4 linked regions of the Homo sapiens genome follow. The protein of the gene in region 2 interacts with the protein of the main gene of each other region in a pairwise test. Each region holds a gene or a part of one and is shown on either strand. Other genes may lie near its edges.

Region 1 (7,509 bases), on a different chromosome or scaffold from region 2:
GATGTAAATGAAATGAAACAAAGGTTTCACTAATTCTTATGTTTCACTTATGTGTTGTCCTTTATGGCAAGTTTCACTTTCCTAGCTTGGGTGTTTTCATAGGTAAAGGAAAGCCTCCATTTCTTACCCTAACCTCGAAACCTAAATTACATGCAGATCTCCAGCACTCTACCTTGATTGCAGAATTTATAGCTACATTTTATGCATTGTTTTTGGCAGGATATTAATATAGATTATGAGAAGCTAGTGGTTCCATTTCTCAAAATAGAAGCCAGGGAAATAGAAAAAAGTATGCACTGCTTGATCACTAAATGATCTTCCTTACAGACAGGGGAAGTTAATTCATCCTCATTCTGGGGAGGGGGGAAGCTAACTTACGGGCCTCAAACTGTGGAAGCAAAAAGTAAAATTAATACACCTGAATGAGTAGAAACACTTTTTAACATATGCTTTATCTGATCATTTCTTTCTTTTTTTTTCAGCCACATGGTCCAAGCATGCTAAACCTGTGGCATGTTCAGGGGACTGGCTTGGAGTGAGAGATAAGTGTTTCTATTTTTCTGATGATACCAGAAATTGGACAGCCAGTAAAATATTTTGTAGTTTGCAGAAAGCAGAACTTGCTCAGATTGATACACAAGAAGACATGGTAAGAAAACAGAAAAGTCTTCAGTAATTTCAGAGATTGTTTGTATAAAAACATAATAAAACAATAATAGCTAATACTATAATACAATTGATCCTTGAACAACATGGGTTTGAACTGTGTGGGTTCACTTATACCTGGATTATTTTTCCTCTGCCACCCTTGAGACAGCAAGAGCAAACCCTCCTCTTCTTCCCCCTCCTCAGCCTACTCAATATGAAAACAACGAGGATGAAGACTTTTACGATGTCTTCACTTCCACTTAATGAATAGTAAATAGATTTTCTCTTTCTTGTGATTTTCTTAATAACATCTTCTTTTCTCTAGCTTCCTTTATGGTAATAATACAGCATATAATTCAAATAACATGAAAATATATGTTAATTTACTTTTATGTTACCAGTAAGACTTCCAGTCAACAGCAGGCTACTAGTGGCTAAGTTTTCTGTTTTTGTTTTTTGTTTGTTTGTTTGTTTGTTTTTAAGACAGAGTCTCACTCTGGCACCTAGGCTGGAGTGCAGTGGTGCAATCTCAGCTCACTGTAGCCTTGAATTCCTGGGATCAAGCAATCCTCCCACCTTAGCCTCCTGAGTAGCTGGGACTACAGGTGCAGACCACCACTCCTGGCTAATTTTGTTTATTTTTTGTAGAGATGAGGTCTCACTATGTTGTCCAGGCTGGTCTCAAACTGAGATCAAGCAATTCTACTGCCTCAGCCTCCCAAAGTGCTAGAATTAGCATGAGATACCATAAACAGCATGGTTAACTTTTTGAGGAGTCAAAAGTTATATACAGACTTTTGACTGCACAGGCGGTCAGTGCCCCTAACTGCCACATTGTTTGAGTCAACTGTGTATGACAATGTGTGCTCAACAGTGTTCTAAGCACTGAAACTATATAATCTCATGTAATCTTCTACTAACACCCATGAAGGAGTTATATAACTCTCCCTACTTTAAAGATGAGGAAAGTCAGTCACAGAAATGTTATGTAACCCAGCCAATGACACAGCCATAAGTTGTTGGGCTGGGATTTGAACCCAGGCAAGATGACTAGTGATGCCATGTCCTTTACCACAATGCATACTGTTTATGTATCTAAATGTCTTCGTTAAATGTTCTTAGATTATTAAGTAGATTTTTTAAACCCTTTTCAATTTGCATTCTACCAAGCATAGACAGAAAAAATTTTTAAAAATACAGCTCTTAGAATTTAGAGACAAGGAAATGAAGGAAATATGTGCACTTCGAAGACGCGAGTGAATTAATGGAAGTAAAGAGGGCAAAGAAGGAGACACGTGGACTCTAGGGACACAGAGTAAGAAAATAGATTAGTTTTTAAAGAAAAGCTGGGGGTTGGAGAGTGGCCAAGATGGCCGACTAGAAGTAGCTGGAGTGCGCAGCTCTCAAAGAGAGGAACTGAAGGGGTGAGTAAATACAGCACTTTGAACTGAAACATCCAGGGTACACGCAATGGAACTAATCAAGGAAACAACTCAACCCATAGACAATGAAGAAAAGCAAGGCAGGTCGATGGCCAACCTGGGAACGACATGGAGCCAGGGGAACTCCCCTCGCCCAGGGAAGTGGTGAGTGAATGTGCAACCCCTGGAACCCATGCTGCTCCCATGGATCTTTGCAACCCTCGGGTCAGGAGATCCCCTTGTAAACCAACTCCACCGGGGCCTTCAGTCTGACACACAGAGCTAAGTGGAGCTTCAAAAGAGCAGCCTCTCAGGCATGTGCAGTGACCCGGGAGCCTCAGATAGCCAGGAGTTCCAGGCTTCCCAGCAAAAGTAGTTGAAACTCCAGCGAAGAGGGAGGTTAGACCCCCTTACACATCCCTAGTAAAGGGGCTGAATCCAGGAGGCTGAGCAGCGACATTCTGCAGGACCCACTTCCATGGCATCTCACAGGATAGGACCCACTGGCTTGGAGTTCTAGCCAGCCATCAATAACAGCATTGCACCTCCCTGAAACAGCTCCCAGAGGGAGATGTGGGCAGCCATCTTTGCTGTTTGGGTGACTTAGCCATCCAGCCTTCAGGCTTTGGAGAGTCCAAGTTGACCAGGGGTGGAAGTGGTCCCCCAGCACGGCACAGCTGCTCTACAAAAAAGTGGCCAGACTGCCCTTGTAAGTGGGTACCCAATCCCATTCCTCCTCACTGGGCAGGATCTCTAACCAGGGTCTTTAGCTGCCTCCTACAGGTGTTCTTGGGCCGGTAATAGCTATGTACCTCCCTGGCACAGAGCTCACAGAGGGAGGGGCAGGCCACCTTCTTTGCTGTTTTGTAGGCTTCACTGTTGGTACCTACAGGTATCAGAAAATCCGAGGTAAATAGGGACTGGAGATGGCCACCAGCATACCACAGCAGCCCTATGATAAAGTGGCCAGACTGTTACATGAGTGCCCATCTCCTTGTCTCCTCACCAGGAGGGTCCTCCAGGCCTGGGCCTCCAGCCCCCCTCGCAAGCGCTATTGAGCCAGTAGCAGCTCTGGAATGTCTTAGAGAGAGCCTCCAGGGGCAACAGGAAACCTCTCTGCCACTGCCTCTGCACTGGAACTGCCCTTGCTGCCCTCAGACTAATGAAGGAGCAAAGACCCTAAGTCTCTCATCCACACCTCCAACAAGTTGCAGGAGAGGAGGCCAGTCCATCTCCACAGGCTCTGCTCACCCACCTTGCTCATCACCAGACATGGAACCTCCAGCTTGGGCCCACAGCAGAGACCCTCCATCCTGGGCTGATTGCACTGAATGATTGCTTACTTGCATCTCTCTGGAGTGAAGCTCCCAGGAGAAAAGCAAAAGACCATTGGCTTTAACCACTACTAAGGTCTCTTCCATTGCTGCCTCCAAGTTGGGGAAGAAACATAAACACTGAGATCACCCAAGAGCTGCAGTGGGCAGCCTAGAATTGCCAAGTCACAATCTATAGCCAGCACTCAAGTGGGAGAGAAACCCACATTTTCAGAACATTGAGAGAGAACATGGCTGCAACTGTGAGGAAAAGTAAGGGAGTCACACAATGGATCAAGAGTCTCCCAACTGACAAATACGTCCAAGCGCAACCTACTGGATCACACCTCAAATCTTCAACACCAAAAATATCTCACTAACATAACCCCCTCTAAAATTAAAGAAGTCACCTTCAAATAAAGACCCTGCACAAAGCTTCAGCCCTATGAAAACAAACAGAAAAGAGATCTATCGACTGTACTAAATATACACTGCAGTTAAATTGACACCCACTGCAGAGATGAGACAGAATTAATGCAAGAACTCCAGTAACTCAAATAGTCAGAGTGTCATATGTTTTCCAAACAACTGCACCAGTTCTCCAACAAGAGTTCTTAACGAGGCTGAACTGGCTGGAATGGCATTGAACTGACAGAAATTCAATGCTATTCCTGTCAAACTACCAATGATATTCTTCATGAAATTAGAAAGAAAAAACTATTTTAAAATTCATATGGAATCATAAAAGAGCCCAAATTGCCAAGGCAATCCTAAGCAAAAAGAATAAAGCTAGGAGCATCATGTTACCTGACTGCAAACTATACTACAGGGCTACAGTAACCAAAACAGCATGGTACTGGTACAAAAACAGGCACATAGACCAGTGGAACAGAATAGAGAGCCCAGAAATAAGGACACACACCTACGACCATCTGATCTTTGACAAAGCTGACAAAAACAAGCAATAGGAAAAGAACTCCATATTTAATCAATTGTGCTGGAATAACTGGCTAGCCATATGCAAAGGATTGAAGCAAGACTCCTTCCTTATACCATATACAAAAATCAACTCAGGATGGATTAAAGACCTAAATGTAAAACCCCAAACTATAAAAAGACTGGAAGAAAACCTAGGCAATACCATCCTGGACATTGAAACAGGCAAATTTCATGACAAAGACAACAAAAGCAATAGTAAAAAAAAATGCAAAAATTGACAAATATTATCTAATTAAACTTAAGAGTTTCTGCACAGCAAAAGAAACTATTAACACAGTAAACAGACAAACTACAGAATGGGAGAAAACTTTTGCAAGCTATGCATCTGTCAAAGTCTAACATCAGCATCTCTAAGGAACTTAAAACAAATTTACAAGAGAAAAACAACCCTATTAAAATTGGGCAAAGGGCATAAAGAGACCCTTTTTAAAAGAAGACATACATTTCACCAACAAACATGAAAAAAAGCTCAACATCACTGATCATTAGAGAAGTGCACATTAAAACCACAACGAGATATCATCTCACACCAGTCAGAATGGATATTATTAAAAAGTCAAAAAACCACAAATGCTAGCAAGGTTGTAGAGAAAAGAACACTTATACACTATTGGTTGGAGTGAAAATAGTTCCACCATTGTGGAAAGCAGTGTGGCAATTCCTCAAAGAGCTAAAACCAGAACAACAATGGTTGCGGTGGTGTTTACGTGATTGACTTATGATTCTTTTGTTATGGATGAGTTAATTTTTAAATGACTTTTGTGAACTAATGAGTCTGTCTACTTTTATCTTTGATCTAGTACTGACATGTATATTTGGATTGGGTAAGACTCACTTTTAATTAGTTAATTGTTCTGTTTAACACAGAAGTTTGTTCAGTGCCTATGTAAATGATGTACATAAAACACTTTCCAGTCCTCTCCTATTGATCTCAATTAGCATATTGCCATAATTAACCCAGAACTATGTGATGGCAGATATGACAGATATAACTATTGGTTAGTGGGCTTAATACTTGGGTGATGAAATAATCTGTAAAACAAACCTTCATGACACAAGTCTACCTCTGTAACAAACCTTCACATATATCACAGAACCTAAAATAAAAGTTAAAAGAACAAAAAGCTAATGAAAGGTTTGTGGCTTAATAGCAAAAAGCCAATAGAGCAGTGACTAAAGCCATCACATAATAGATTTCATTGCAGTAAATTATATTTATATAGAAGTTAGTTTTATCTCTGATTATATGAAAAAACATACAATATCAGTGACATTCATACTAAAGGGTATCAATGACTTGGTTGTAGCCCAATTATCTGGAGATACTTAAGATGCAAAAAAGCAAAATGAAAATCTTTCTGATAAAACTAACCCAAACATCAACATCTGTGCTGTTTGTTGTTATAGAAGCATCAGGGAAGACAAATTAGAATGTGAATCCTAAAAGATAGAATAATTGGGGTGGGAAGCATGTTCAGCAATGTGCTGTAACATATTAAGTAATCGCTGATTCCCTTTGTTTTGTGAAAGGAATTTTTGAAGAGGTACGCAGGAACTGATATGCACTGGATTGGACTAAGCAGGAAACAAGGAGATTCTTGGAAATGGACAAATGGCACCACATTCAATGGTTGGTGAGTTTCCAATGTATTAGCAATGTTCTTATTCTGGTGTGTCATATGAAAAATTTTAAATCATTTTGAGTTGTATTATTATAAACAAATCTTTCTGTTTTCCATGTGGAATTAACTTTTCAGTCTCCAATCGATGACATATGCCCTTTCACATTGAAGCATATCCTAGAGCAACCCATTTTCTTCTCACCTTGTTAAATGACACATGGTGAAATCTTCCATTTTTATTTTTATTTGTTATTTTATCTTTATTATCAAGCTCTTGCTTGACAATTAGTTCTCTTTTGCTAATTCAAATTTAATCATTCTGCAAATTTTAAGCCAAAACTCACGTATTACTTGTACTTCTTTCCAAGTAAAGTGTATATAAGATTTCTTTGTCTTTAAAGGGTTAAAGACTTTATAGTTGTCTTTAACATTCCAAATGCCCACCACAATGAATACTACTTGTTTTTATTTATTTGTTGCTTATTTTATTTATTTTTATTTCTGTAAGCATTTCCTGGGTGGGTTAAAATTGTTAAAAGTGTTTCTTGGGTTAAAATGGTTGAGGATTGTATAGTTGTCTTTAGCTTTCCAAATGTTCATCATAAGCAATATTATATTTATTTTTTTAATTTTTGTTTATTTTTTATTTAGCTTACTTTTTTATTTATATAATTGTTTCTTGGATACATATGTATCTCTGCCTTATTATTTTAGTAACGTGCTAGATTAAAAAAAGCAACCAATAAAACAAATATTGAAATATGCAAGACAGGACAAATTATACTTATAAATAAGGAAAGATTTGTTTATCAACAAAGAAAATTAATTAAAAAATATATTTTTATTTTACTGTAAGTTCTGGGATACAAATGCAAAATGTGTAGGTTTGTTACATAGGTATGTGTGTGCCATGGTGGATTGTTGCACCTACCAATCCATCATCTAGGTTTGAAGCTCCACATGCATTAGCTGTTTGTCCTAATGCTCTTCCTCCCCTTTCTCCCACCCCCTACTGCCCCCAGTGTGTGTTGTTGCCCTTTCTGTGTCCATGTGTTCTCACTGTTCAACTCTCACTTATGAGTGAGAACATGCAGTGTTTGGTTTTCTGTTCCTGTGTTAGTTTGCTGAGGATGACAGTTTCCAGATTCATCCATGTCCCTGCAAAGAACATGGACTCATTCTTTTTTATGGTTGAACAGTATTCCATGGTGTATATGTACCACATTTTTTTTTAACCAGTCTATCTTTGATAGCCCTTTGGGTTGATTCCATGTTTTTGCTATTGTAAATAGTTCTGCAATAAACATATGTGTGCATATGTCTTTATAATAGAATTACTTATATTCCTTTGGGTATATATCCAGTAATGGGATTGCTGGGTTAAATGGTATTTCTGGTTCTAGATCCTTGAGGAATCACCACACTGTCTTCTACGATGGTTGAACTAATTTACACTCCCACCAGCAGTGTATAAGCATTCCTATCTCGCCACAGCCTCACCAGCAT
Region 2 (7,509 bases):
CTGTCATTCTTTTGATGGCTTGAGCTGTATATCTTCTGAACAGCAATGGGGCTCTTATGCAGAAAGTATCATATGTTCCCAGCCAATTTACAGGGAAACAGCAATAACATTTTATCATGGTTGAGAGCCCAGTAGCTGCTTCCTATTAAACTTGCCCTTTCAGATACCTGTCTTGGATTAATTTGTTGATTTCGAATGGAAACTCAGTCTTCTCCAGTGAAGCATGACGTTCTAGGATAGACTCTGAATGACAATTACTGTGTATTCTAGCTGGTTTCAGACCATTACAAGCCTTGGGCACAGTGGAAAACAGAGGACTTCAGTAACTGATTTTAATATCATGTCTAATTTTAACTGTCAGTTATGTATGTGCCAGAGAACGAATCCTCAGAAAGATGAAATGCAAAACACTTCTAACTTGCTCTTTTTAATGATACACTTTGCTGCGGGTGGGGGCAGGGGGAGGGAAGTGGAGAGGGAATAACTATCTCCTGAAGGGAATCAGCACGGTGGGGAAGCATCAGATTTGAAAAGTGAGAATGAAACAACTGCCACCTGATTTTTTGTGTGTGCCCCTCAGGATGCTTCTAAATAGTAATGTGTTCACCAGAAAGGGTTTCCATCAATCAATACCAGTACTTTTCCTTGAACATTCAAGAAAAATGTAGGGTTTTACAAAGTTAGGATAATTAGCTTTGCTCACCATTTTGTTGAATATTATAGAAAAGAGTGAATTTCCTTAGCTGTAAAAGCTCTTGTGAGCTACTACTGAGTGTAACCTGGTAGATTAGAAAGAAGGAAGGAATTCTGCTGCTTTAAATATGATGAACCATCTTAAAAGATCTAAGTTAGGAAGCCCTGAAATTATATTTCAAATGGAGAGAGAAAGTGACGTTTTGGAGTCTTTAAAAGTATTTTCTCCTTATGGAGCATATTAGATGTATGCATTCTTGAACATTTGGTACTTTGCAGTTATAGCAAATTAACTAATTGTTAATTGTGATTTTACTTTTCACAATTATTCCCTAAGCACACTGGCTTTATCTTTTCCTAAGTGATATACTACAGTAGCATACTGATAGCCTAATCTTATTTAAAAGGAGAAAGCAAGCATCAGTAGCATACTATGCATGCAGTGAACTTGGATCTTTATAAAAGAATGAATGAAACTGTTGGGTTTCTCTCTGGGAATCTACAGTTGAACAGAATGAATGATAGCCAATTTAGACTGAATTTCTGTATCTGTTACAATCCTTAGTAAAATCCATCACTATAACATGGGCCACCATATGAATTCAGATACATGATATGCCACATAGCAGTCTGGGAACCACAGCTACCCCTTGAAAGCCTGATTACATAACAGTTGTATTATGTGGTAATTCCATACATATTTTTGGCTGTTAGCCTCAGCCCCCTGCTCTAGCATCTGAAAAAATGTTTTATTGGCCATGATATTCAGATTTTGAAATAAACAGGCATGTGTTTTAGACACACAGAGTAAACAATCTGAGCGTGCCAAGATGCACAGTTTGTTTAACATTTACATAAGTGTCTCTTTTCAGTGTTTTTTTTATTTTCTGGAAGAGGTTGGTTTTAAGAAAAAGTGGAAAGCTTTTATGACAATTGTTTCATAATGGCTCTGTGTATGAAAGAAACCAAATAAATTGCTAGGAATAAAGTTTTATTTGAAACTTGATTCAGTGATACCTAGCAAAATTGTGCTTCCCAAACTGCATTATATCTTTAGAATCCAAGTAATGGAGCATTTTGATTCTATTATTTTTTCTAGGGTCCACATTGAACAGCCGTTTATGCCATCAGCCCAGTGATAGAACAAATGATGTTTCTGCTTGGGCAAGCTTTGTTTTATCAGGATCAGTAACCTTATCAGCAGTTGACCCAGAACTATAATGCATGTCTCTGAATAGATAGCATATGTCACAACTCTGTGCAGACTTGCTTCATAAGCAAGATTGTCTAATAAAGATTTAATAAATAAGGAAAAGTTTGCAGCAAAAAGTCTTCTTTTATAATAACTTTTCTTAAGCTCGTTTACAGCTCCTGGCTCATCTCTTGCATTTATTCTCATAAAAACTAAAGGAATAAACATACATATAAATGCATTCACACAGACTCCCATGATGCATCGTTTATCTGTCAGTATTTCTTTCTGAAATATATCATTTGTGGGTAAAGAATGTAGAATTTAAATTATCATATTGTTTTAAGGTTCTTATGTGACATATAAATGTAGTAATGTCCAAAGACTAGAAAACCCATGAGTGTGATAAACCAACAATATTTTTATGCAATTGTATATTATTTTTTCTTAATAATAGGATAACATAGAAGGTTTTCTCCAAATGCAAAATGGTCCTGGCTCAAAAATATTCTTATTTAACCAGTAGTGTTTAGTACTCTATAATTCAAAATTGGATTCTTCACTCTCGTATCAACCTGCTTAGATTTTAGAAGACATATAATAAATGGAGAGAGAAGATGGAGCATCCCCATACATAAATAAGTCACGCACGACGTGTACATTTTGACACTTAACACTTCTTTTCTTTGACCTTTGACAGGTTAGGGCTTGACCCAAAACTACTGGCTAAAATCCTAAATATGAGCTCAGGACGGTGTTGGTCAAGTGACACTTATAATCCTGTACCTGGAGTGATGGATGGCGTTCCCTCGGCTAATAACTATCAGGGTGGATTTGGAACAACACTCATGGCTAAGGTATGGTAAATGTAGACACCCAAGAGAGAAGGAAAAACGTTTCACGGTCCAATAACACCTTCCTTCTCTTTCTCTTAATAAAGCATATGTCTCAGGTAAGAGGCAAAATTACTAGAATATTCACTCTCACTGAAAATGAGTAAAAACCTAACTTAGATGAAAATCCTTATCTTGTTCATTTTTATTCCTGGCCTTTTGGTTGAGAAGAATGGGCCAGACCATGTGTGTGTGTGTATGTGTGTGCGTGTGTGTGTGTGTGCGCACTTGGGTTTATTTATATGAGCCGGTAAAATTTCGTTCACCATTAATTTATGTTAATTTACCAACTTCTTAAATGAGAACAGTGAGAATTTTCTCATTGTTAATAATACACTGGCAGTGCATATATGCATCACGAAGAGAGGATTTTCCCATTGATAATAGATTTCCAAATACATCTTCCTGCTTTAAGATTTTAATATATGGATTTATATATAAAAACTAGTTAAGTCATTGGAAAAGCAAACTGTCATCCTTCTCTTATTTGAGATCTCAACTTTAGAAAGTCTATGTTCTCAACTACAGAAAATAATTTTTAGACCAGCTAACTTTCAGATTTCTGCAGTGCTTATTTTCTCCCAGTTGAGGGTTGGTTTTTGTTTGTTTGTTTGTTTGTTTGTTTTTCCTGATTAAAAAGTAAGAATACGGCCAGGCGCGATAGCTCATGCCTTTAATCCCAGCATTTTGGGAGGCCGAGGAGGGCAGATCACCTGAGGTCAGGAGTTCGAGACCAGCCTGGCTAACATGGTGAAACCCAGTTTCTACTAAAAATAAAAAAAATTAGTCGGGCGTGGTGGTGCGTGTCTGTAAGCCCAGCTACTCAGGAGGCTGAGGCAGGAGAATCGCTTGAACCCGGGAGGTGGAGATGGCAGTCAGCTGAGATAGCACCATTGCACTCCAGCCTGGGCAACAGAGTGAGACTTCGTCTCAAATAGAAAAAAAAAAAGAAAAAGAATACATATACCTAGATACCACACAAGCATACCTTGGAGATATTGTGGGTTCAGTTCCAGACAACCACAACAAGTCACACAAATTTTTTGGTTTCCCAGTACATATAAAAATTACGTTTATACTATGCCATAGTCTATTAAGTGTGCATTAGCATTATGTCTAAACAATATACGTATCTTAATTTTAAAATGCTCTATTGCTAAAAAAGCTAACAATTATCTGAGCCTTCAGTGAGTCATATAGTCCTTTTTTGCTGGTGGAAGGTCTTGCCTTGAGGTTGATGAATGGTGATTGACCAGGGTGGCGGTTGCTGAAGGTTGGGTGGCTATGACAATTTCTTAAAATAGGACAGTAATGAAGTTTAAGTTTACTGCATTGATTTACTCATCCTTTCACAGAAGATTTATGTGCTACTGTTTGATAGCATTTTACCCACAGTAGAACTTCTTTCAAAAACGGAGGCAATCCTCTCAAACCCTGATGCTACTTTATCAACTAAGTTTGTGTAATATTCTAAATCCTTTCTGTCATTTCACCAGGAGTAGATCCATCTCAAGAAACCACTTTCTTTGCTCATCCATAAGAAGCAACTCCTCATCCCTTCAAGTTTAGCACAAGATTGTAGTAATTCAGTCACATCTGCAGGCTCCACTTCTAATTCTAGTTCTCCTATTTCCACCACGTCTGCAGTGACTTTCTCCATTGAAGTCTTAAAGGCCTCAAAGTTATCCATGAGCATTGGAATCAGCTTCTTTCAAACTCCTGTTAATGTTGATATTTTGACCTCCTCCCATGAATCACAAATATTCTTAATGGCATCTAGAATGGTGAATTATTTTCATAAGGTTTCAGTTTACTCTGCCCAGAGCTGTCAGAGGAATCACTATATATGGTAGCTATTGCCTTATGAAATACTTCTCACATAAGAGTTGAAAAATGACTCTTTGATCCATGGGCTACAGAATGGATGTTGTGTTCATAGACATGAAAACAACATTAATCTCCCTGTACATCTCCATCAGCACTCTTGGGTGACCACGTGTACTGTCAGTGAGCAGTCGTATTTTGAAAGGAATCTTTTCTTCTGACCAGTAGGTCTCAACAGTGGGCTTAAAATAAATATTCAGTAAACCATCCCATAAACAGATGTGCTTTCTTCTAGACTTTGCTGTTCCATTTGGAGAGCACAGGCAGAGTAGATTCAGCATAATTCTTAAGGGCCCTAGGATTTTTGGAATGGTAAATGAGCATTGGCTTCAACTTCAAGTCCCCAGCTGCACTGGCCCTTAACAAGAGGGTTAGCCTGTCCTTTGATGCTTTGGAAACAGACATTGACTTCTCTTTAGCTGCGAAAGTCCTAGATGATATCTTCCAACAGCAGGCTGTTTCATCTACACTGAAAATCTGTTGTTTAGTGTGGCTACCCTCATCAGTGATAGCTGGATCTTCTGGATAACTAACTTCCTGCAGTTTCTCCATCAGCAGTTGCTGCTTCACCTTCCACTTTTATGTTATGGAGATGGCTTCTTTGCTTAAACCTCATGAACTAATCACTACTAGCTTCACACGTCTTCTGCAGCTTCCTCACCTCTCTCAGCCTTCACAGAATTGAAGAAAGTTAGGGCCTTGTTCTGGGTTAAGCTTTGGTTTAAGGGAATGTTTTGGCTGGTTTGATCTATCCAGACCACTCAAACTTACTCCCTATCAGCAGTAAGGCCGTTTCACTTATCATTCATGTGTTCACTGGAATAGCATTTGTAATTTTCTTCAAGAATTTTTTCTTTGCATTCTACTGTTTGTTTTAATGGGCCTGCCTTTCAGCCTGTCTTGATTTTCTACATGCCTTCCTCACTAAGCTTAATCATTTCTAGCTTTTGATTTAAAGTGTGAGACAGCTGACTCCTCTTTTCATTTGAACACTTAAGAGGCCATTGTAGGGTTATTAATTGGCCTAATTTCAATATTTTGTGTCTCAGGGAATAGGGAGGCCTGAGGGGTAAGAGAGAGAGAGCTGCCATTCAGTGGCTGGGCAGTCAGAACACATGTGTACCACATTTATCGATTATGTTTGCCATCTTATGTGCGCTTTCTGACACCCCAAAACAGTTTCAATAGTAACATCAAAGATCACTGATCGGCTGGGCACAGTGGCTCATGCCTGTAATCCCAGCACTTTGGGAGGCCGAGGCAGGTGTATCACCTGAAGTTAGGAGTTTGAAACCAGCCTGGCCAACATGGTGAAACCCTGTCTCTACTAAAAAAAAAAAAAAAAAAAAAAAACGCTGGGTGTGGTGGTGGCAAATGCCTGTAATCCCAGCTGCTCAGGAGGCTGCGGGAGGAGAATCACTTGAACCCAGGAGGCAGAGGTTGCTGTGAGCCAAGATTGCGCCACTACACTCCAGCCTGGGCAACAAGAGAGAAACTCCGTCTCAAAAAAAAAAAAGTTACTGATTGATTGCAGATCACCGTAACAGAAATAATAGTAATGAAAAAGTTTGAAATATTGTGAGAATTACCAAAATGTGACAGCTGCATGAACTGGGCACATGCTGTTGGAAAAACAGTGCTGATAGACTTGCTCAATGCAGGATTGCCACAAACCTTCAATTATTAAAATACAAAAACAAACATGCATTATCTGTGAAGCATGATAAAGTGAAGCACACTAAGACAAGATGTGCCCATACTTGGCTTACTCTCCCTCATTCCCCATGACGTTTGTTCATTCTGCTTCTTGAATATGCCTTGAATTCATCCAGCTCCCTCCTCCCCAGCTAGCTGTACCTTGGCTGAGCCTCGTTTGTGTTGTACCACAAATACATCTTAACTGATCTTGTCTTTCAGCCTGATCTTCTCCAGTTTATTTTCCATATCAAAGCAAGAGTGAGCTTTCTAAAATGTAAAATCCTGATTGTGTCACTTCTCCTTTGAAGCTTTTGTAGTTTCAGTTACTTGGAGATTAAAGTCCATCCCTGCAACTTGTCTGACAAGCCCCCAGATGCCTTGGCTTTTGCTTGCCTCAACCAGACTGATTTTCTTTCCCATCCCCCTCTCCTTGCTTTCATCGTGCTGAACTCACTTCTCCCTCTTGTTCTGTCTCTTGGAAACCTTCACATTTGCTTCACATTTGCTGTCACATTGTCTGCCAGGATGGATCATTCTTCCTTGCCCACCACCTCCCTGCCACCCCCATGTTTTCACCTGGCTCCAGGTCTGTGCTTCACTGTCTTCTTTTTCTTCACCTTTCCCAGCACCCCAGACCCTGCTTCCTTGGATCCCATGATAGTACTCCTCCTATCCAATTATACCATGCTTATTTAATTGTCTTTCTCCTTAACACAATGTGAGTTTGGGTGGGCTGTGGCTGTTTTGCTCATCATTTTATCCCAGCTTCTGGCACATTGTCAGCACACTTCAAATATTTATTGGATGAAGTAATATTTGCAACTGTATTTCCTGTTTTGCAGTTTTATTTCTCCTTGTTTTCATTTAAGAATTTTTTAAAAAAAATTTATGTCTTAAAGATTTCCACAGATAAGATTACACAGGGAAATTTTTTTTCTTCAAATCTGTGGAACAAAACAAACAGGTATTGTGGAAGGTGGAAAAATCGAAGAGACACTCAGAAATCAAGGTTTCTGTCTGGAGCAATTTTGCAGTTATATGAAAGCGCTTATTTAAAAATGTTAACTTACCATAGTATTTATAAGTATCTTATTTTTTCAGATTACATTTTTCCTTCTTTCAAACCAAAACATAAGGAACCACAGTTCC
Region 3 (7,509 bases), on a different chromosome or scaffold from region 2:
AAGGGAAGAGGGAAAAGGGATGAAATTCAAATGAGTAGGTGTGGGAAGCTTAGTAAGAGAATTCCTATCCAAAAAGTTGTCTCAAATGATAATTGTCCTTGAACCCTGCAGTGACCAGAGGTAACTGAAGAGAGACTTTTAATTTTGGCCAGTGAATATCGTGGAAGGAACCAAGACAATTTTGTTTCATTTTTGGCCTCAGTGGTGACTGCCTCGTATTGGGCAAGGCCTGTAATTGTTTCTGCTTCAATTTTCTCATTTGCAAGAGAGGCATAATAGTACTTCTCTTTTTCCCACACCCTCTTCCTAGGGGATATTGTGAGCATTAATAAGGCATTTCCTTACAAGCGTTTGGGCCTTCATGAAGAGAGAGCTTTGCAGAGACCCAGCAGTTCCTTTTCCTCCCTTAGGCCTGGAAAGGCAGGAGTTTACGTTACATTTCATCTGGTATCCCAGTGAACTGCCTTGACACCTAGCACAGTGCCTGAGATACATATTAAATGCCTCTTCACTCGCCTGTGATCATTTTAATAGAAAGAAGAGTGTCCTGAGAATCAGCAGAACTGAATCAAACATTTTTTTTCTGTCCCTAAGGATTTCTTGGACTAAGCTGAACAAGCACAGTGGCAAGTTATTTAATCCCTCAAATCCTAAGGATCCTCATTTTGAAAATAGGAACAATAAGGATAAGAATACTTAACTCAGAGTTGTCACAAGAATGAAATAATATGATATCTATAAAGCACCCAGCACAATGCCTCGCACAATGCCTGAACGTTAACAGTTGTTATGTCTTTAGCTATATTTGTCATCTGTGAATTGAAACTTATTATACAAGCTATGGTTCCTCTTAGCTCCAAACTTCTGAGATCCCATGACCTTTAAGAGCAGCTATGCAGTTCAGAATATTAAGTTTGCGCTCCTAATCTCTGCAGACGTGCTGGCAGGTTGACTGTCTCCCAGTAATAGGGATGCAGAACTGGCCACAGTCAGGGCTGGCCAACAAGGGATGGGATGGCAAGGGAACCAGTGGGAGACTGTTTACACCTTTGACTTCCTCTTCACAGGTCAAGGCAGGACTGTAGCATTAGGTCTCAGAGATGCAATGAACAGGACAAATACACTTCCCCTTCATCTGGACCTGAGGCTCTGGGCAAGTCAGTACCAGCTGGTTTCTTTTGGGAGCCATAGAAACTCTGGAGCTGTTCTACCGATTCCTCAAGAAGTAAAATATAGGCCAGGCGTGGTGGCTCACGCCTGTTATCCTAACACTTTGGGAGGCTGAATCGGGTGGATCACAAGGTCGGGAGTTCGAGACCAGCCTGGCCAATATGGTGAAACCCTGTCTCTACTAAAAATACAGAAATTAGCTAGGCATGGTGGCAGGTGCCTGTAGTCCCAGCTACTCGGGAGGCTGAGGCAGGAGAATCGCTTGAATCCGGGAGGCGGAGGTTGCAGTGAGCCAAGATGGCTCCCTTGAACTCCAGCCTGGGCGACAGAGCAAGACTCTGTCTCAAAAAAAATAAAAATAAAAATAAAAAAAGAAGTAAAATGTAATCACTGATAACCAGATTGCTTTGATTGGTGACTATGGGATCTTGTTTTTTAAAGTCAAATCAGCAAAACATCTTTATTGATGTGTATGTAAAGGCATTCAGCTATATATCATTTTAAAAGGCTCCTTCTTGCATATCTACCTCATCTCCTGAGTTGCCTCTATTCAAAGAAGACTTATCTTAGTCTGAGATTTTTCTTGATCAGAAAAAAACCTGTAAAGATATCTTAAATCTGTTATCTTACGGTCAAGGAAATTGAGGCTCTTGGAATAGAAGTGACTTATCTAAAGTCAAATGGAGAGGGAAGGAGAGAGCGTGCCAGCTAGCCTTCTGATCCTGAACCCACTTTTCCCATCTCAAGGATGACCATACATCCCATTTGCCTGGAATAGTCCTACATGGTTTCTGTGTACCTGTTGTGCTGGTGTAATCACTAACACCCCCTTTCCTCCAAAAGATTTCTGCTTTGGACAATAAATTCTATGGCCATCCCTCACCTCTCATGCTACATTGTCCTTACAGACCACAATGTATCCCGCTTCTTGGCTCTCTTAAGGAGTTGAGGCCTACTCAAACTAGCTCTGGCAAGAGAGGATTCTTTTTTTTGTTTCTGTAAATCTGGAAGGGGAAGCTCATAGAAATCAAAGGGCAAGAACCACGGCACAGTAAGGCCTCCTGAGAGGACAACCGAAAGTGGAAAGTCAGCAGGAAGCAGGCACACTCTGCCTCCCACTTTTTCCTCTGCTTTCTCCACCAACAGGCTTCCTCTGTTTACTCAGCCTGGCTCTGTACTCATCCGGGCTTGCTCAGCCCCGCCTCAGTGTGACTTTCCAGCTGTTGACCTCTCATAGACATGCTTCATCTCCTAGTTTCTCTTTTCCAAGTTTATAACGGAGCAATGTGATTGGCTCAGCACAGGAAGAAACTATAGCACTGTAAACGGAGGCAGTGTCGTTAATTTCCTTGCAAGATTCTCTAACTCCTAAGCAAAATTATCCAAATTCTTTCCTGGCTTTTAGAAACACGATCTTGTGATATCAAAATCATATTAAGTTTATTTTAGTGTCTTACTAATTCATGTTGACTATGAGTGCATTCCTTATTAATGATTAAGACAATATAGTAGGCTAACAGTTGTCAGCATAGCCCCTAGACTCTAGGAGATGCATCTAAATCACTTACAAAGATTTAGAAAATACCAGACCCCATCCCAGACTTGCTGAATCAGACTCATTAGGAACAGAACTCAGGTTAAAGTGCTTATCATAAAATCCATTACTGGAGGCAGGTTGCTGTGGGATCGTAATCTGCAATTTTGGGAATATGCATTTTTAAAAAAGGTGTTTATATTTGTATAGTGATTATTTTAGACCATGTCTTCATTCCTTAAGATGGTAATTCTGACTGAGGAGATTACTACTTATAATTACTATTAATCTGCAAGTTTACATTAAAGGAAATATTATTTGGTGAGGAGGGGAAGATTCCTGCCTGTGGAAACTACTTTGCTTTATTGTTAAATAAATCCAAGATTTCATTCTGTCAGGCCACAGCAGAGGGGCCATCTGTTCTGCCAGACATTTGCTTATTTCCCAGGAAGAATCAGGAGGTGGAATTATAAGCTCATTGATGAAAACATAGGATGTTGGCCAAGTTACTAGACATTCCTGGCCATATCATCAAGATATGCACTATCTATACACTATACACTAAGGAAGGGACCATTTTTAATCCAAGCTGGTAACTGGAAAAAACAACCAAGGAAAAATAAAGACCACTTTAGGTGTTTGCTTTCTATATCTAAATGCACTTTTGGGTACATGCTTTGGCAGTCATTCTTTCATTTGACAAATATTTACTGAGTGTGTACCATTTGCAAGGCAGTGTGCTAAGAGCTATGGATATAACACTAAACAAGAGGCAGTCTCTACCCTTGCAGATTTTATAATCCAATTTAAACTCCTGGGCCCCTCATATTCTTAAAAATTATTGAGGACCCCAAAGAACTTATGTTTCCATACCTATTGATAGTTACAATATTAGAAATTGAAACTGATATGTATTTTTGAGAAATGTTTAAAACAGAAGACTACACAAGCACATATTCCAATATGACATCATTATATATCACGTAACCTCTGGAAGACTCCACTCTACACTCAGAGAAATAATAGAATTAAAAACGCAAATGATACCTTAGTATTAAAATAGTTTTGACCTTGTGGGCGCCTCCTAAGAAGGTCTTCGGGCTCCCCAGGGGTCCTGAGATCACACTTTGAGAACTGTTGATCTAGTTTTCATTTAATTATTTTTTTAGAATATTTTTAAAAATACATAATATCCCTGTTTTATATTCCTGTAAGGCCAGTTTGGAAGCTATCTTGTTAATGTTTTCAAACAACCAGGATTTTGCTTGGTGTGTCTTTGATTTACTGTGTCCTTTTGGCTTTCCTGTGAGTCCAGTGTTAAAAATAGGAGTTTGGGCCATCAGTAATTCCAGTTCCACAATCTCTTGTCTTTCCCCGAGTGCTGATCAAAGTAGACAAGAGCATTCATATCTCCATAATTGAATTACTCAGTAATTCCCTTCTGGCCTCAGCCCTGCGGGGATTTTCAACCCATATGACGTAATTTGGTATTTTAATCTAGTATGAAAGCTCTCTTTGAAGGTAGATGTCCTGTCGTATTTAGTTTTGTGTCTTTTCTTACTGCCAAATGCAATGTCTTATTCAAAATAGATGGTCAGTAAGTGTTACTTGGATGAATAGAGAAAATAATTTCTTTGGAAATGATTTTGTTTGCATTTTGTTGTTTAGTCTCACATTTTGCCTCACTCTGTAGGCCAGTGGTCACATGTTTGTCTCATGAATGATTTATACCTTTAAAATCTGGAAACTTCACGTATTGGTCCAGATTTCCAGCTTCTCTTGAAACATGTGGATGTTCTTTGGTACTCGTCATACCAAGTTCTGTGTGGTAGCTGTCTCGGCAGAAAAGAGGCTGACCCTTAGAAGAGACCTGCCTTCCCTGTTTCCCACTGTCTTAGTCCATTCAGGCTGCTGTCACAAAATAGCATAGACTGGGTGGCTTATAAACAACAGAAATTTATTTCTTACAGTTCTGGAGGCTAGGAAGTCCAAGATCAAGGCCCCGGCAGATTTGGGGTATGGTGAGGGTCCACTGCCTCATAGATTATGGTCTTCTCACTCTAACCTCACATGGCAAATGAGCTCTCTGGGGTACCTTTTATGAGAACTAATCCCATTCGAGAGGGTTCTACGCTCGTGACCTAATCACCTCCAAAGGCCCCACCTCCTAATCTCACCACCTTGGGGGTAAGGATATCAACAAAGGAGTTTTGAGGGGACATAAACATTCAGACCACAGCACCCACCGTCCTTTGCGCCCTTATTGGCTCCCAAGGCCCAGTGAAGGTATCCGTTGTTGTGCATGTGCTGTTGTGTTTCTTAGAGTAGAGAAATGTTTCTCTATATCTGACACTCCTTACCAAAAGAAGGAAAATGAAAGATAGCTTGAGAGGATCATGTGTTTAACAGAAATGGGGGAGGGCATGTTTCTCTGTAGAAATGAATATTGCTGCTGGGGTTTGACATGCAAACAAATGTACAAACCCATGGCCTGTGTCACTCATTTGCCCTAGCCATCTGGCCCCTTCAGCATCTGAATTTTACACACTTTCCAGAGACAGTGTGAGGCAGAGTGCCATTGTTACACTAATGTAATCACTCATCACAAGTCCCATTTTTTAAAATTCATTTTTTAATTGACAAGTCAAAATTGTACATATTTAGGGCATGCAACATGATGTTTTGAGAGAGATATACATATAGATATACATAGTGAAATGGCTAAATCAAGCTGTTTAACATACACCTTACCTCAATTACTTATCTTTGTTTTGTGGTAAGAACACAAAATCTAATCTCAGCATTTTTCAAATATACAATATTTTGGGGTTTTATTTTATTTTATTTTTGTTTTTGTTTTTGTTTTTGTTTTGAGATAGGGCTTCTCTCTGTCACCCAGGCTGGAGTACAGTGCCACTACCATGGCTCACTGCAGCCTTGACCTCCTGGGTTCAAGCCATCCTCCTGCCTTAAACTCTAAAGTTGCTGGAACTACAGGTGTGCACCATGCCAGGCTAATTTTTAAATATTTTTTTGTAGAGATGGGGTCTTGCTGTGTTGCCCAGGCTGGTCTCAAATTCCTGAGCTTAAGCAATCCTCCCACCTTTGCCTCCTAAAGTGCTGGGATTACAGGCGTGAGCCACTGTGCCTGGCCCAATATATTGTTATCCACTGTGATCACCATGATGTACATTAGATCTCTTGAATTTGTTTATATCAAACTGAAATTTTGTGTCCTTTGACTAACATCTCACCAGTCCTCCCAGCGCCCACAATTCCCATTTTAAGGATATTTTCTTTTAACACTGTACTTCTGATAATCAACAGTAGTGGAAGAGGAGACATAGAAATAGGTAGGTAATGAAAATATTACTTATTTCAATTTTGAGAGATATAATCACAACCAAACAGGTTGCAAAATAATGAGACTGGCTGTGCAAGTTACACACAGAATGTGGGCCTTGTTTCCGTGGCCTTATTTCTTATTTATTCACATCTGAAACTCCTCTTTCTCACCCGCCTCCCCACTCCCCATATATGTATATATATATTCCCCTCCCGCTCCCAATTTTCACCTGGTTCTATGTTTAAGTTTCTATCGGTAGCTGCTTTTTTTCCCTTTAGGTCATCAGTTCTCAAACTTGGCTGTACATTTGTAATCACCTAGAAACTTTCAAAAATAAGTTAGTGGGTATTTTGTAGCAGGAGGTTTTTTGGGATTGTCATTCCACCATATTGTCCTGTATGTAATTTATAAACAAAGTACAGTTCACCCATGAGCTACATTTGAATCTGAACTATCAGAGCTCATTAGTTAAAATTATGACAGTTGCAAAATGAAAATGAGTTAAGCAACAGTGACATAAATAAATGAATGCCAATACATTTTTACTGAGTTAAAATAAGGTCAGGGAATAAGAGTAGAATGTTAATGGCAGTTTCTTTCTTTTATGTAAACAGTGGAAATTACTTAAATTACTGCATGAGTCTGGGTTGGGTTTGCTTCGTTTCAGGGAGCAATTTTAAAAAACAAAGCAAATCAATTGGTGTTTTGCCATTTGATGAGTTTTATTAATCTGGAGTCCAGTATACAATTAGGCCAATATACCATCCATACACAATTAGGGCAAGTTCTCCAAGTTGGTCTGCATTATCTCTGGATGAATTTAGACTGTGCAGATGGCAACATGGATGCTTAAGTTGTGTTTAATTATGAAGTAGCACTTTACTGACCTTAAAGAACAACCAGTAGTGCTCTCGAATCCCGAAACTTTCCTTAAAGGTATTACTGATTCCCGTGAAAGCCTAATGGATTCCCTGAGTGCTTATTTTTATCACTTGGAAGTGGCTTACATCAGGACAGCTGGTTTCACCACTCTCATGGTGTTGCCTTCCCAAAAGATTGCTGTTAGGCTGACTTGGGTTGTGGCTGTATTAAGTCATGTCAGTGTTCAGCAGTCAAGCTAATCCAGCCTGCATCTGTTCCTTCATCTGCAGGTCAGGTGTCAGCCTGGCCAGCGACTCCATGTTCACTACACACAGCTCAGAGAGGTTGTTCTCAGTTCTGTCTCTGACCAGCCTTCTGTGTACCCAAATGGAAGCTTATGCTGGTTGAAGATTCTTTTACTTTTGTTTTAAAACAGTCTCACTTCATACATGGTAAAAACTGTTATGCTTCTCCAGTAATTCAAGAAATGCAAGTTCAAACAAGAAGATGCTATTTTGCCACTACTGAGGAAGCAAAGATTTCTGAAAACCTTAAACACCAATATTGGGATGGATATGCTGAAATGGTTGCTCATACA
Region 4 (7,509 bases), on a different chromosome or scaffold from region 2:
GGCCCTAGCCAGGGGCTGGTGCGGTACACACTCTGTATGGGGTTGCCATGCTCTGGTGGACCCTGGCTGACCTCTCCCCCGACCCCAAATACTCTATTCTCAGGGTGCTGGCCCCTCCTGTGCCCCAGAAGGCCTGGCCCGCCCCGGCAGGAGCGACCTGCCTCTAGAGCCAGTCACATGGGTGTTCATCACTTACTTGGCAGGCTTTCCAAAGGCCATGTTGTCCTCCTGTTGAGGGACAAAAGCAGAGGTCAGTGAGGAACTTACATTTGGGCCAGATGACAAACCTGGGTAGGTGGCAGAAGTGCAGTGACTTAGAAGAGGGTATGTCAGGGGTGGGGGGGCCAGAAGTGGGGCCTGGGCCCTGCCCTGGGGCTGGCATGGCATCTAAAGAGCTAGCAGCTGTTCTGCAGGAAGAAGGCAGTGTGGCACAAGTGCACAGAGCACTGCATCAGAGACCAAAGATCTGGGGCTCCAGCTGCCACTGTCCCTTGGTGTGGCACCCAGGAATTCTCTTGCCCTCTCTGGGCCTCATTTTCTCCAAGTTCTCTGGTCAGTCTTCTCTGATCTCTGAGGACCAGCAGGAGGTTTCCATCATGGTCTGGCCTCCTGACTCAACAGTGGTGGCCCACATGGAGACCATCTCCTCGCCCAGCAGTCTGACTGCATTCATAGCAGGGCGGGGGCGCTGGGCCCAGAGGGACTTCCTGTGAGGGAGACACTGCAGTGAAGTCCTAGACTCATCACATTATTCCTGGGGTACAGGACTTACACAGAGACAGACTCTGGGTTCAGATCAGGGAGACCCTGCTGACAGACCTGGTCAATGATTAATCACCATAAAAATATATGATAAAGTAATGGATGTGAAAGTATTTTTAAGTACAAAGTGACAGACCTTTGTCGTGTTAAGATGATCATGACAACTATTAATATAAACAGGTTGGTGCCACCACACCCCTTCAGTCCAGCCTCTGACACCTGGAGACAGGATGATGCATGCTCCTCTGCTGCTAGCCCACTGGACCAGTCTTGGTCACAGCCCCAGGGAACAGACCTGAGAACACAGCTGCTTCATTCTAAAGCCCCACCCCCTCTTCTCCATGGCCACACCCAGGGAACCGAATCAGCCTCCCGTGTCCCCCCACCTTGACTCCCACCTTCTGAAGGTCCAGAGATGTGGTTCCTGGATGGTCTGACTCTCCACTCTTGCCTCTAATCCCTACCCATGTCTCGGTACCCCAGGGGTGGGGGCAAAGGGCTGGGTCAGTTACTTAAGAATCCTTCTGGCCACACTGCCCTCCCGGCCTGTCCTGGAGGCAAGAGAAGGGGGAAAGGGGTCAAACACTGGTGAGGGGCAGAGGGCCAGGGCCAGGACTGCGGGTTATCTACGTTCTCCTGGGTCTGGGGAGACGAAGCCTGCCTGCAGGCAAGACAGGACAGCCTTCCACTTAAACCTTGGAACCCCCCGGGTGGGCAGAATGGGGACTCACTGAGACAAAGTAGGGGCCCGCGAAGTCCCGAATGACTCCTGTGGATGTGCAGATGCCCATGTGGCCGATGATGGGGAAAAACCACCTGTGAGGAAAAGGACGGGGAAGGGACAGAGCTTAGGGGATCTTTCAGCCAGTTAGACGGACGCTGGGGACCCTTCATACAGTACAGAAGCATGTGAATATTACGTTTCATTGACAGGTGGCCATTAGGGTGGTCCAGAAGGCTGGGGAAGCACAGACAAGGGTAACTGCAAACCGACAGCACAATGGGATACCTCAGCATCCCGCCAGGATGGCTGTAACTCAAACGACAGCAACACCAATGCAGGTGAGGGCAAGGGACAACCAGAGCTCTCATTCACTGCTGGTGGGAGGGATAAACTGTTTCTACCTTTTTTTTTTTTTCAAATGGAGTCTCGCTCTGTCGCCCAGGCTGGAGTGCAGTGGCACAATATTGGCTCACTGCAACCTCCGCCTCCCGAGTTCAAGCAATTCTCCTGCCTCAGCCTCCTGAGTAGCTGGGACTACAGGTGTGCACCACCACGCCTGGGTAATTTTTGTATTTTTAGTAGAGATGGGGTTTCACCATGTTGGCCAGGATGGTCTCGATCTCTTGACCTCGTGATCCACGTGCCTTGGCCTCCCAAAGTGCTGGGATTACAGGCATAAGCCACTGCACCCGGCCTACCATTTTGTTTTTGAGATGGAGTCTCGCTCTCTTGCCCTGGCTGAAGTGCGGTGGCACAATCTCAGCTCACTGCAACCTCCGCCTCCTGGGTTTAAGCAATTCTCCTGCCTCAGCCTCCCGAGTAGCTGGGACTACAGGAGTGCACCACCATGCCTGGCTAATTTTTGTATTTTTAGTAGACATGAGGTTTCATCACGTTGGCCAGGCTGGTCTCGAACTCCTGACCTCAAGTCATCTGCCTGCCTCGGCCTCCCAAAGTGCTGGAATTACAGGCGTGAGCCACCGTACCCGGCCTGTTTCTACCATTCTGGAAAACAGTTTGGCACTATACTAAATGCCTCAGCAGTTTCACTTTTGGAACCTTCTTTGCCCTCACCCCTGGGAAATAACATTTGCCAAAACTCATTGAACTGTACTCTTAAAATGTGTACATTTTATTATATGTAAACTATAATTCAATAAAATTGATAAAAACAACTAGAAAGAATCCAAATGTTCAACAACAGTACGATGAATAAGTGTGGTATAGTTATACATTGAAATAGTCCATAACAATGAAAAACAGTGTCACTTCTGCTACACACAACACAGGCTTTCACAGACATAAGGGTGAATGAAGGAAATCTTACACAGAGTACGTAACATAGCACTCTGTTTACGTGAAGTCCAAGAAAAGGCAAGACTGATCTATGGCTAGAGGTCCACAGCGGGGTGGAATCTGTGGTAGAACTGACTGGGAGGGCACAAGGGGGTCCTCTGGGTCTTAGCATTGCTTTCTAGCCCCCGTCTGGGTGGCGGTTACATGAGTGTGTGATATGCAAAAATTCTTCCTGCTGTATACTTGAGATTCGCACACCGTTTGGTACATAAGTTATACCTCAATAAGAAAGTTAAAAAAAAAAAAAAAGGTGGGCGGTCATGACACCAGTATGGGTGGGGGAGTTCAGGAAAGGCTTCCCTGAGGAAATAACAAAGAAACAGAATGTGCAAGGGTAGAAATTGGAACAGAAGCATGGTGTATGCCAGGAAATAAAAGTTCCTTTTTTATAAACCATGGGCATTAAAAAACAACAATAAATCTCAGATGCACCCCAATATGTCACACATAGGAACCCCAGACCTGTCTGTGTTCTGAGAACCATGGCCCTACAGGACCTGGGTGCTGGAGAGACTGATCCAGTTTAAGGAGAACTCACAGGGCCAGTGGCCGAGTCCTGGCCTCAATGCTGCCTGGGCACGAGCATAAAGCACCTGGCTAGGGGTGCAGGCCAAGCCTCCAGAGACGCAGTTTAAAAAAGCAGTTACAGGGGGCTGGGGTGGAGCCAGTAAAGACTTCACAGAGGAGGTGACTTTTAACCTTGACCTGTGAAAGGACACAACATCAACAGGCAGAAAACAACACTGCAGAGCAAGAAAGTGGTACATGTGCCTGGAAGAACGAAAGGGGGAGAGGCCAGCTCAGGGGCTACTGCTGTACCACTGGCAAGAGATGATGGAGGTCCTGACTAGAGGATCAGGGGCAGGGTGGTGAGAAACACATGGATTCAAAAGATCTTTCAAATGAAGACTGGAGAGTTTACGACTGACAGGATGGGGGTCTTCCAGGTCTACAGCTTGAGCGCTTGAGACAATGGTAGGGCCAGAGTGGTCTTTTGAGAATTGAACTCAGATTCCATCATTCCCCTGTTCAACACCTATTAATGGCTTCCTACTACACTTATAATACACTTCGAACTTCTTCCAACACTGTGGTGCTAATTATCCCTTGAACTTCATCTCAGTCCCCTCTCTAGCTACACTGCCTGCTTGTGGCCTCAAACACGCCAAATCCTCCCACCCCATGCTTTCTCTGTATCTGCCCTCTCCTCCGTCTGGAACACTCTTCCCAGAGAGCATGGCACAGCTGACTCCTCACTGATTAGGCCTCAGCCTCACTGTCACCTTCGGAGGTCTTGCCTGAACGGTGTCTTCCAGCACAGCCACCCAATCCCAGATCCCACTACAATGCTTTACTTCCCTCATAGTATCTACTACCATCCAAAATTATCTTGGTTATTTATATGCTGTCTCTCCACTAGAACATAAGCTCCAAGAGAGACAGGATTTTTTCTTGTTTACTACGGCAGTGCCTGTATATAGCTGCAACTCACTAAATATTTGTTGACTAAATAATGAATGAACATCCTGCATTTAAGAGTAGAGTCTGGGGCTGGGTGCTGTGGCTCACGCCTGTAATCATAGCACTTTGGAAGGCCAAGGCAGTTGGATTGCTTGAGCCCAGGAATTTGAGACCAGCCTGGGCAACACAGTGAGACCCTGTATCTAAAAAAATCTAAAAATTAGCTGGAGGATCACTTGATCCAAGGAAGTTGAGGCTGTAGTGAGCCAAGGCTGGGCCCAGGAAGTTGAGGCTGCAGTGAGTCAAGGCTGGGCTCAGTGGCTCACGCCTGTAATCCCAGCACTTTGGGAGGCAGAGGCCGGTGGATGACTTGAGGTCAGGAGTTCGAGACCAGCCTGGGAAACATGGCGAAACCCTGTCTATACTAAAAATACAAAAATTAGATGGGCATGGTGGCATGTGCCTGTAATCCCAGCTACTCGAGAGGCTGAGGCACGAGAATCACTTGAACCCCGGAGGCGGAGGATGCAGTGAGCTGAGATCACGCCACTGCATTCCAGCCTGGGTGACAGAGCAAGACTCTGTCTCTAAATAAATAAATAAATAAAAATTAAAAACAACAAACAAACGCCAACAGTGAAGTCATGCTCAGATATCATCTGGGTTGAGGCTTGCCTTTGTTCTGGGCAAGTTACTAATTCCCATCTCTCTGTGGATAGTAAAAATTACCTTAATGAGGAGCTATTGTGAGGATTAAATGGATAGACTTATCCATTTACACAGTGCCTAGGACTCTGCCTTCCGCTTGGCAGCTGCTCAATGTTGTCATCTCGAGGTGTTCAATACATAAGCACTATCTGACTGACTGCACTAACATAGAATAAGTTGCAGAAGATCCACAGGCCACAGGATGGACATTCAGGATTATGGGAAAGTAGCTCATCCTGATCTCAGGACTGCCCTCCACCCCCATCTCTGCCCCCTAATCCTTTCATCTGCTTGGGAGGAAGTCTGGGTCCAACCAGGATTCCACACGCCACAGCTGTGCTGGCAGCAGTGGATGGAAATCAGAGTAAAGGCTGGAAGCCCCAGAGAAGAAACCCTCAAAGTGGTTTGTCAGCCTGGAAGCTCCAGGAAGGCAGCTCCAGAGCCGCTTTGTGGACTACCTTCTATTCAGGACCTAGTACATAATAGGTGCTTTATAAAGATACAATAAATGAATAAATGACTCACTCATCCTGGAGCTCAATCTGGGAAGGTAGGCTAACTCAGCAAAAGAGCACCACACTGGCTTCTAAGCCTTACTTCCTCATCTATAAAATGGTGACAACAGTATCTACTTTCATAGGTTGACATTAGGATTGAGTGAGTGAACATACAATGTTTAGGACAGAGTAAGCATCTAATCTTAGCTGTTTTTATTAGTAGCAGCAGCTATTAAACTAGTTTCTTTTTTTTCCCTTTTTTTTGGTTACAGCAGCACTTTTATTTTTCCTTACACAATGACATGCCGCTGGGGCCTAATGTTCTCACATAACAGTAGAAAACCAAAATCTGTTCTCATCTCCTTAAAGAATCGAGAATTGCATACAAAAAAAAACCTTACATAAATTAAAAGGATGAATACATTTACAGGTGTAAATGCAAACTGCTTCCAACTCAAAGCAAGTCACAGCCCACAGTGTTCTGGCAGGAAAACATCAGCTAAGAAAGGAAACTGGGTCCTATGGCTTGGCCTTTCCAACCCTGACAGACCAGCAGGACAGAAACAACTGGTTCAGGAGCCCTTGTCAGCCTCTAGAGAAATCCCAGAACACTCAGCCATGACATATTAATACCCTGCAAAGATCGGAGACTGCTGGCCATGCAGACTCACCAAGTCGCACTTGTCTTCCACAAGCACATTCTTACCTTGCCACGCAGTGACCAAGCCACATGTACTAAGGGTTGAAAGCAAAGATATGTACAGGGTATTAAACAAATACCAAGGGGAACAGTTAACTTGAATACAAGGTCAAAATCAGCAACAAGTTCTACAATCCAGTGCTGATATTAGATACAAGCTTCAACGACAATTTCTTTTCGAAGGCTTATTCCATTTTCGTGAGGCTAGCATGAGGTATATGCATTTGCCAGGGCCAATTTATACTTCTGAATTAACCCATGCAGCAAATGCTACGCATCGGCTCGCAGTCCATTTAGAAGCATTTGCGGTGGACGATACAGGGGCCTGACTCGTCATACTCCTGCTTGCTAATCCACATCTGCTGGAAGGTGGACAGTGAGGCCAGGATGGAGCCGCTGATCCACACAGAGTACTTGCACTCTGGGGGCACAATGAGCTTGATCTTCATGGTGCTGGATGCCAGGGCGTTAATCTCCTTCTGCATCCTGTCGGTGATGCCCGGGTACATGGTGGTGCCTCTGGATAGCCCTATGTTGGTGTACAGGTCTTTGCGGATGTCTACGTCACACTTCATGATGGAGTTGAACGTGGTCTCGTGGATGCCGCAAGATTCCATACCCAGGAAGGAAGGCTGGAACAGCGCCTCCGGACACTGGAACCGCTTGTTGCTGATGGTGATGACCTGGCCATCCGGCAGCTTGTAGCTCTTCTCCAGGGAGGAGGATGTGGTAGTGGCCATCTCCTGCTCGAAGTCCAGGGAGACAAAAATATGGAACGCTTCACGAATCTGCATGTCATCCTTGCGCAGGGGCCATGCTAATCTTCTCTGTATCGTTCCAATTTTAGTATATGTGCTGCTGAGGCGAGCACTAAACTGGTTTTTCATGCAGAATTACCAACATCTCTGAGGGGGTAGACAGATCTTTGGGTTCCATTTCCTCCTCTGATCTCTCCTCCAAAGACAGGTGACAGTTACTTGCGCCACATCTATGCCTAGCTCTGCAATCATCACTATACAGTAATACTACGATGGCTAATTGACCTTTCTCTCCCTCCTGCTGGAGGTGAGTCCTTTGAAGGTGACATGGTTTGGATCTGTCCCCGCCAAATCTCCTGTCAAACTGTAGTCCCCATATTGGAGGTGGGGGCTGGTGGTGGGATCATGAGGCTGGTTTTCTCATAAATGGTTCAGCACCATCCCTTTGGTGCTGTTCTCGTGATAGTGAGTTTTCCCAAGATCTGGTTGTTTAAAAGTGTGTAGCATCTCCCCCCTCACTCCCTCTTGCTCCTAATCCCGCCA

What was found.
Region 1: the proteins of HIBADH (region 2) and CLEC2A interact in binary tests that used the Homo sapiens proteins (3 or more experiments, as listed by UniProt).
Region 3: the proteins of HIBADH (region 2) and SCARB2 interact in binary tests that used the Homo sapiens proteins (3 or more experiments, as listed by UniProt).
Region 4: the proteins of HIBADH (region 2) and TMEM222 interact in binary tests that used the Homo sapiens proteins (3 or more experiments, as listed by UniProt).

The regions. Positions count from the first base shown.
Region 1 is NC_000012.12:9,915,206-9,922,714, reverse strand, and holds part of CLEC2A (C-type lectin domain family 2 member A), read left to right. Parts: intron 1-482; coding exon 483-649; intron 650-5,911; coding exon 5,912-6,015; intron 6,016-7,509. UniProt on the Homo sapiens protein: Membrane-bound protein expressed mainly on keratinocytes which acts as a ligand to stimulate the activating receptor NKp65/KLRF2, expressed on the surface of natural killer (NK) cells.
Region 2 is NC_000007.14:27,526,425-27,533,933, reverse strand, and holds part of HIBADH (3-hydroxyisobutyrate dehydrogenase, mitochondrial isoform 1 precursor), read left to right. Parts: intron 1-2,585; coding exon 2,586-2,742; intron 2,743-7,509.
Region 3 is NC_000004.12:76,203,393-76,210,901, reverse strand, and holds part of SCARB2 (lysosome membrane protein 2), read left to right. Parts: intron 1-7,509.
Region 4 is NC_000001.11:27,324,789-27,332,297, reverse strand, and holds part of TMEM222 (transmembrane protein 222), read right to left. Parts: exon of another isoform or gene 5,773-7,509; intron 1,584-5,772; exon of another isoform or gene 1,579-1,583; coding exon 1,494-1,578; intron 1,314-1,493; exon of another isoform or gene 1,161-1,313; intron 1,058-1,160; exon of another isoform or gene 229-1,057; coding exon 197-228; intron 1-196.